Homo sapiens: one gene and its partner. Changing the gene in region 2 together with the main gene of any one other region gives a genetic interaction. Each region holds a gene or a part of one and is shown on either strand. Other genes may lie near its edges.

Region 1 (3,813 bases), on a different chromosome or scaffold from region 2:
AGTTCATGACTTCACGTTTCTTTTTCTCCTTTAAAATGTAGCTCTGACAGAGACTACTACTTGTCCATTCCATGGAAAAGTCAGAGGTGGTTAAAATGTCAGAGGTACACTTACTAATACTTTGCTGCCTTTTGTGTAGCTTCTTCTCAGTACTTCACCAGTTGGGATTGACACACACCTCTACAGCTGGGTTCAGGAGCCAGACAGCAGCACACAGAACGGGGAATCCAAAGCCATCTCTGACACTAAAAGCAATGAAAACAAAAATAACCAAACATATTATCAAGAAATGAACAAGAGATTGATATCAAGTAAAGCAAGAAGAGAAGAAAGCATTTAATCTGCCAGGCTTTCATTCTGACAAAATAATTTACAACATGCATGTCTCTATCTGACATGAGTGAATAGAAAAAGAACCCAAATACCCAGTTGAATTGCAAGATGAAAATGAAAAAGAACTCTTGCTTATTCGCCAGGGTACAATCTAATCTGGGCTACTAAAACACTTTCATGCACTGATTCTATGTAACACATGCTTTATTGCCATTTGGAAATGGGATTTCTTGCTTTGATTTAAATATACTTCCTTGGATTTGTGCTTTAAGTATACTTTCTTAAACATATTCACAGCTACATTCTCAGTACAAATTTTCAGGTGTAAGTAACTACTTCTGCTTTTGATAGTATAATTGGTGAAATAAGCTATACTTCCATGTAAATGTGAGAGTACAAGGTAAGATTCCAGAGTCAAGTAAAACATAACAGTCAAGAAAATAAAAAGGTGAGAGTAACTGGGCAGTGGGGAAATCTTGTGTGTGGAAAGAATGAATCTGTAAAACTGTTCTTTCCTAAGAGAGTTCAGCAGGATTTGGATGATAGAGAGCTTTGTGTACAAGGGTTCCAGTTCCACATAGTTTAGGTCTAATTTCAAAGGCAACTTCTAGTGCAACCTGTGACTCACGCTGTCCTAAAGTGCCGAATGTAAAGGGTCTGGAGATAACCCACAAGCAGCACTGTGAACCCCTGACAGCAAGCCTTTCCAGATAAATACCTGTCAGTGTCTACAGCTGATGACAGAGCAGAATATCTGAAAAATAATACTTCTTCGGCCAGTGGACTGCCAGTCACTATTATTTAGTGTAAAATACTATATTACATATGTGTAATTTTTTAAATTGCAGTGTTTCACATCGAAGCAATTAAATATAAAAACCAAATGTTTATTCAGCTTAAAGGCAACTTAGAAATACTGATCCCAGATAGAAAGATGCTTTAGTCCCAAGTCAGCTGTTCTAAAATGCCACAACTAAACCAACGAAGGGATCTTGAAGCATAGTAAGTGTTCATACCTTTTCAGCTATACCTCTGCTTGTCTTGAATATAAAAACCTAAGCTGCAGTTATGCCACAGCACAGAATGTGTTATATTTTACATCACTGAGCCTTAGTTTTACAAATGGTAAAAAATAGGGAAGGTAAACTGAGGTTTTCTTAAGGAGCTGTTACATCCAAGAGACTCATGAAAATCTTTGCCAAATGTCCCCGGTACATAGCTCCTCCCCACTGATGGGCTCAACGGGGAGAAGCTATGCACATGTCTCAATTTGCATATGCTCAATGGCAATACAGGATTCCTAGGATAAAGTAAGGGATATAAATGACACAGCACACTGAAAAGACTGTAATGTTACTTCAGAATGTTGCAAAATAAAGATCACAGATGAAAGTTTTAGTTCACTGAAGCATGTAGTCATGTATATTTCATTTGTGTGTTTTAAAGTCTTATACTGCTTACATTCTCTTTTTTTGTTTGTTTTAAAATAATTATATTTGGCTACAAAGATCAATAACAAGGATGATGTCAGTCCAGGTTGGACAGGCAGTTCTGGGGCAGATGTTCTTGCAGTATTTTTTTTTTTTTTTTTTAGTATTTATTGATCATTCTTGGGTGTTTCTCGGAGAAGGGGATTTGGCAGGGTCATAGGACAATAGTGGAGGGAAGGTCAGCAGATAAACATGTGAACAAGGGTCTCTGGTTTTCCTAGGCAGAGGACCCTGCGGCCTTCCGCAGTTTTTGTGTCCCTGGGTACTTGAGATTAGGGAGCGGTGATGACTCTCAAGGAGCATGCTGCCTTCAAGCATCTGTTTAACAAAGCACATCTTGCACCGCTCTTAATCCATTTAACCCTGAGTGGACACAGCACATGTTTCAGAGAGCACCGGGTTGGGGGTAAGGTCATAGATCAACAGCATCCCAAGGCAGAAGAATTTTTCTTAGTACAGAACGAAATGGAGTCTCCTATGTCTACTTCCCTCCACACAGACACAGCAACAATCCGATTTCTCTATCTTTTCCCCACATTTCCCCCTTTTCTATTCAACAAAACCGCCATCGTCATCATGGCCCATTCTCAATGAGCTGTTGGGTACACCTCCCAGATGGGGTGGCGGCCGGGCAGAGGGGCTCCTCACTTCCCAGAAGGGGTGGCCGGGCAGAGGCGCCCCCCACCTCCCAGACGGGGCGGCAGCCGGGCAGAGGCGCCCCCCACCTCCCTCCCGGATGGGGTGGCTGGCGGGGCAGGGGCTGCCCCCCACCTCCCTCCCGGACGGGGCAGCTGGCCGGGCGGGGGCTGCCCCCCCACCTCCCGGACGGGGCGGCTGCCGGGCGGAGGGGCTCCTCACTTCTCAGAAGGGGCAGCTGCTGGGCGGCGGGGCTCCTCACTTCTCAGACAGGGCAGCTGCCAGGCGGAGGGGCTCCTCACTTCTCAGACAGGGCGGCTGGGCAGAGACGCTCCTCACCTCCCAGACGGGGTCGCGGCCAGGCAGAGGCGCTCCTCACATCCCAGACGGGGCGGCGGGGCAGAGGCGCTCCCCTCATCTCAGACGATGGGTGGCCGGGCCGAGACGCTCCTCACTTCCTAGACGGGATGGCAGCCGGGAAAAGGCGCTCCTCACTTCCCAGACTGGGCAGCCCGGGCAGAGGGGCTCCTCACATCCCAGACGATGGGCGGCCAGGCAGAGACGCTCCTCACTTCCCAGACGGGGTGGCAGCCGGGCAGAGGCTGCAATCTCGGCACTTTGGGAGGCCAAGGCAGGCGGCTGGGAGGTGGAGGTTGTAGCTAGCCGAGATCACGCCACTGCACTCCAGCCTGGGCAACATTGAGCACTGAGTGAACGAGACTCCATCTGCAATCCCGGCACCTCGGGAGGCCGAGGCTGGCAGATCACTCGCGGTTAGGAGCTGGAGACCAGCCCGGCCAACATGGCGAAACCCCGTCTCCACCAAAAAAAATACAAAAACCAGTCAGGCGTGGCGGCGTGCACCTGCAATCGCAGGCACTCAGCAGGCTGAGGCAGGAGAATCAGGCAGGGAGGGTGCAGTGAGCCGAGATGGCAGCAGTACAGTCCAGCTTCGGCTCGGCATCAGAGGGAGACCATGGAAAGAGAGGGAGAGGGAGACCGTGGGGAGAGGGAGAGGGAGACCGTGGGGAGAGGGAGAGTGAGAGGGAGAGCCAGAATTTTCTTTTTAAAGGCAGAATAATATTCTATGTATATACCACATTTTTCTTTTTTTGAGACAGGGTCACCTAGGCTGGAGTGCAGTGGCATGATCACGGCTCACTGCAGCCTTGACCTCCCCAAGCTCAAGTGATCTTCCCACCTCAGCCTCGGGAGTAGCATGTACCACCATGCTTAGCTCATTTTTTGTATTTTTAGTAGCTATGTTGTCCAGGCTAGTCTCCAACTCCTGGGCTCAAGCAATCTGTCCATTTGCCTGCCTTGGCCTCTTAGAATCTATCTTTTTTTTTTTTTT
Region 2 (4,580 bases):
ACAGCAGGAGGTGAGCAGCAAGCAGCGAGCAAGCATTACTGACCAAGATCCGCCTCCTGTCAGATCAGCAGTGGCATTAGATTCTCACAGGAGCAGAACCCCATTATAAACCGCTCATGCGAGGGATCTAGGGTGTGCACTCCTTATGAGAATCTAACTAATGCCTGATGATCTGAGGTGGAACAGTTTCATCTTGAAACCATCCCCACGGCACCCCCCTCCTCCATGGAAAAATTGTCTTCCATGAAACCAGTTATCAGTGCCAAAAAGGTTGGGGTCTGCTGGTTTAGAGAACGAGAGATAGGTTACATTCCAACAAAACAATACATTCTAAAACTAATCACATGAATGACTTTCTGACACAGCAACAGGAACATATTCCAAAGTCAGATTCCCTGTGTCTATGAAACTGCCTTCCCCTGGTTGCTCCTTCAGACCTTAAAAGGAATTAGGATACCTAATATGACTAATCTAAAGTGTTTCATTTTAAAATAAGCAAAAATTATGATACATAATACCTACTTCACAAGGCTATTGCAAAAATTAAACAGCTTCAGTAGTGAGCTTAGCCTAATACAGTTTTTATAAATATTTCATAGGAAATTTCCTGTTTTTAGTGCATCAAAAAAGGTCTAATAAATTTGGTTCTTTGATTAAACACAAAGACTCGACTGTCCAAGTCAAAGTCACATCACTGTCAGCAAAGGTAGTCACTACCACATAATAGCAGCAATCATTACTGAATATCAGCTAAGGGATTTATCTATTATCAATTCTAAAACTAAATCTACAAGTTATGTAAAATTATTCCCATTTAGGGCTGAGAAAACACCTCAGAGAGACTGCATCACCTGCCCAAGCTCCTGCAGGAAGTATGTGGCAAGTGATCTCAAGGACCCAGGGCCCTTGACACCAATGCTACTGCTTTCCCGAAGCCCTCTGCTGCCTCCTTAATTTCAAGAGCTCCTGTAAAGATGGGAGTACACATCACTGAATTCAGAGCTCAGAGAGCTAGCCATTCTATCAGAGAAACATTTTTGAAGTGGCAGTACTGTTAATATAAAAAGCAGAAGTCCACCAATCAAATAAACACCAATCCCCAGGGTGCTGTTGGCTATCTAATCCTATCACTAAACTTAGGAGCAGAGGGCAGATAAGAAAATAAAGATATGAGTACAACATACTATAGAATCAAACTGCTAATGAGAACCTGTGTCATGATTCTGGAAATGTCATTTGAGTGCTCAGACAAGCTAGACCTCATAAATCTTACACAGAGATTTATAATAACAATGTCTCATTTGGGGCACACAAAAATCTACTGGAGAAGATTAGGAAAGGATTATTTAACTTGGATAATTTTTTAAATTAAACTTTTAACTCTTATTTAAAGACATTTTAATACTGTAACGTTAGTGTTAAGAAGCAATAACTTTTTCATGTTTCACATTTCAATACAGAAAAAAATAGATTAAAGATACATACAGGTTAAAGTGGGGATCCAAGAATATAGGATTAAGGTGGGGAAAATGACAGAGTCATGGAGGAACTGGTTCTTCATTGGTCTTCACAGGAGGATGGGGAGTAGGAGAGCCAAAGAAGAATCTACAGGAGCTGGTGCCCGAATGTGGTAAGTGAGGAAAAATGGTAGTCTAAGCTGGCTCAAGGTGGGCTAGTGTCTGGAAAAGTGAGGACCCATACTAAGTGGAATGAGAAGGCATTTTCTACATAGTGAAATCTCTGGTGACCACTGAGACTTGAGATGCTCTCTTCAGTGTGGAAAGATGGGGGAAGAGGAACGTTTAGCAACACAGGAGGTAGATGGTCAAAAAAGCAACTACATGCCTTAAGAAAAAAGTTGGAACAATGATTCCTACAGTCTTTAGGTCACTAAAGACCTTTAATGTCCTCTCACTGGTTAAATTCAAGCAACACACACACATTTTAAAAATTAATGATTCCTATTACGTGTGAATAAACCTGAACTTTTTTTTTGTTTTAGTGAACATAATTTACACTGGCAAAATCGTCCCCAATCCTCCATATCAAATGAGTATAGAGGTGGGTGGGTGAGCTCAAAGGTCTTTTGCCCCTGTAGTTAAAAGCCTAAAGAAGTCTTCTGATCACTGTGGCTGATAGTAATACATCTCAGTATTAATACAGACAAGTGACTACCTGTAATACAGGTCTTCGAAACATGGCTTCTATTTTCTTTTCTTACAGTCTAATCTTTAGGCTTTTCCTGAAGGAAAAAAACAAAATAAGAAAAAAACATTACCTCTTATGGCAAAAGTACAACTCACCAGTCCTAAATTCCTAACTATATTCATAATTTTTATGCACTCCAATTTTGTGACCACAACGTACCAACATTCCTGCACATCTGATGAGGATTCCTTCCTCCCTCCCAAATAAACTCACACCTGTATGTCTTTTTGGTCCCAAATAACTTCCTCTTCCTCCAACCCATCGACAAAATTTTGATTCTGAGTTAATCCCACTTCCAATCCACTGTCTTCTCAAATTTCATTACTATGCAAGCTCCCTTAGAGCAGAGATTTGTATCTGCTTTATTCACTGCCATTTTCTAAACTTCTAAAAAAGTTCTTAATGCATAGTAAGGCCTCCATAAATATTAGCATCACCAAGGGACTTATATCTGAAACCTGTTACTGAAAAATTACTGCCTTCATCTCCGTTAACAAAGACCAAGCAGCGTAGAGACCCCCGGGCTAGCCAGCCACACCATAGGGAGAGGTGGACACCCTTTACCGAAGATGGCGCCACCACCTGAAAACCGAGGAGAACTGGAAGGAAATCACGCGGTCCTCCGCACGACTGATGAAAGGGCCAGACACCTACACAGAAACACCTCCCGACCCACGCAGGATCACGCGCAGCCAAAACACACGACTCCAGCACTTCCTTCGCGCTGGCTATCCCTTCCTCCCTCACCTGACGATCTAACCCGAGCAGCCCAGCCACGCAGGGGATCACTTCCGGCGCACAGGGAACGCAAAGCTCGCCAGAGGAAAAAGGAAACAGAAACTCCGCAACTTGCGCCTTGGAAATACTGCCGGCTAGCGCTGCGGGAAACGGCTCCCCTTAACTCTGAAGTTCCGCGATCTTCTCTTTGTGCGCGGGCGGATGGATCAACGCCGCCAAGTGGTGAGTTTGGAAGGTTTCAAGTTTAGAAGGTTTCAAGTTTAGAAGGTTTCAAGTTTGGAAAGAAATGAAATTATGTGATGAGGTTTCTAACTGGGCCCAGGAGGGGGCGAGGTAGGCAAAACAGAGACTAGCTCTGCCTGGAGGGAAAAAAAAGCAACATTTGTGACCAGCCTAGGCGACATAGTGAGACCTGTCTCTACAAAAAATATATAATTAGCTGGGCGTGGTGGCGCGCGCCTGTGGTCCAAGCTTCTCCGGAGGCTGAGGTCGGGGGATCGCCTGAGCCCTGGAGGTCGTTGCTGCATTGAGCCGTGAACGCACCACTGCATTCCAGCCTGGGCAACAGAGCGAACTCTATCTCAAAACAAAACAAAACAAAACAAGAAAAAGAAAAAAAGAAGAAAATTAAAAAAAAAAAGAAAGAAAAAGAACGTCCCAGGTCTGTTGAAGCACTAAGAAAAGCAGAAAAAGAAAGGGGAGCCAGGGAAGGGCTGGCAGGCTGTGCAATTTAAGGGAGCACCAGAAAAACTGGCAATCAAATAATATATTAATGTAATATTTTAAAAAGTAAAAATTAATGCAGGAAATCCGGGAGGAACAAAATAAGAGTCATGTGTACCTTAACAACAGGGTAAGGTCTGAGGATTGCGTCATTAGGCGATTTTGTTGCTGTACGAACACCACAGAATGTACTTTGACGACCTAGATGGTGGAGCCTGGACACACCTCGGCTCTGTGGTGTGGCCTGCTGCTTCCAGGCTGCAAACCTGACAGCATGGGGCTGTACTGAATACCGCAGACCATTGTAATTCATGGTAAGTATCTGTGTGTCTAAACATATGTAAACATGGAAAAGGTACAGTACAAATGCGGTATAAAAGATAAAAATGGCACACCTGTATGGGGCGCTTACCATGAATGGAGCTTGCGGAACTGGAAGTTGCTGTGGGTGAGTAAATGAGTGAGTGGTGGCCCAACATGAAGGTCTAGGACATTATTGTACCCACTAAACACTTCATAAACACTGTACACTTAGGCTACACTCAGTTTATAAAAAATACTTTTCTTCCTTTAATAAACTTTCACTCACTATAACTTTATAAATCTTCCAAATTTTTTTACGTTTTAACTGTTTTGTAATAACAATTAGCTTAAAACACACACTGTACCACTGTACAAAAATATTTTTCTTATATCCTTATTCTACAAGCTTTTTTCTACCTTTGCTTTTTTTCTTTTTTTTTTTAACTTTTTAGCCATTTTTTAAAAAAACTAAGACATAAACACACACATTAGCCTAGGCCTACACAGGGTCATTATGATCAATCTCAGCCTTCCACTTCCACATCTTGTCCCACTGGAAGGTTTTCAGAAGCAGTGACACACAGGGAGCTGTCATCTCCTATAACAGT

Evidence for each region.
Region 1: changes in SSBP1 (region 2) and TIMM23B together harm fitness more than expected from each alone (negative genetic interaction), as found in Homo sapiens cells (one large-scale study listed by BioGRID).

What each region holds. Positions count from the first base shown.
Region 1 is NC_000010.11:49,969,444-49,973,256, reverse strand, and holds part of TIMM23B (mitochondrial import inner membrane translocase subunit Tim23B), read right to left. Parts: intron 3,216-3,813; exon of another isoform or gene 2,799-3,215; intron 246-2,798; coding exon 193-245; 3' UTR 1-192. UniProt on the Homo sapiens protein: May participate in the translocation of transit peptide-containing proteins across the mitochondrial inner membrane. the PAM complex.
Region 2 is NC_000007.14:141,736,786-141,741,365, reverse strand, and holds the start of SSBP1 (single-stranded DNA-binding protein, mitochondrial precursor), read right to left. Parts: upstream 3,009-4,580; 5' UTR 2,956-3,008; exon of another isoform or gene 2,773-2,955; intron 2,760-2,772; exon of another isoform or gene 2,368-2,759; intron 2,243-2,367; 5' UTR 2,200-2,242; coding exon 2,176-2,199; intron 1-2,175.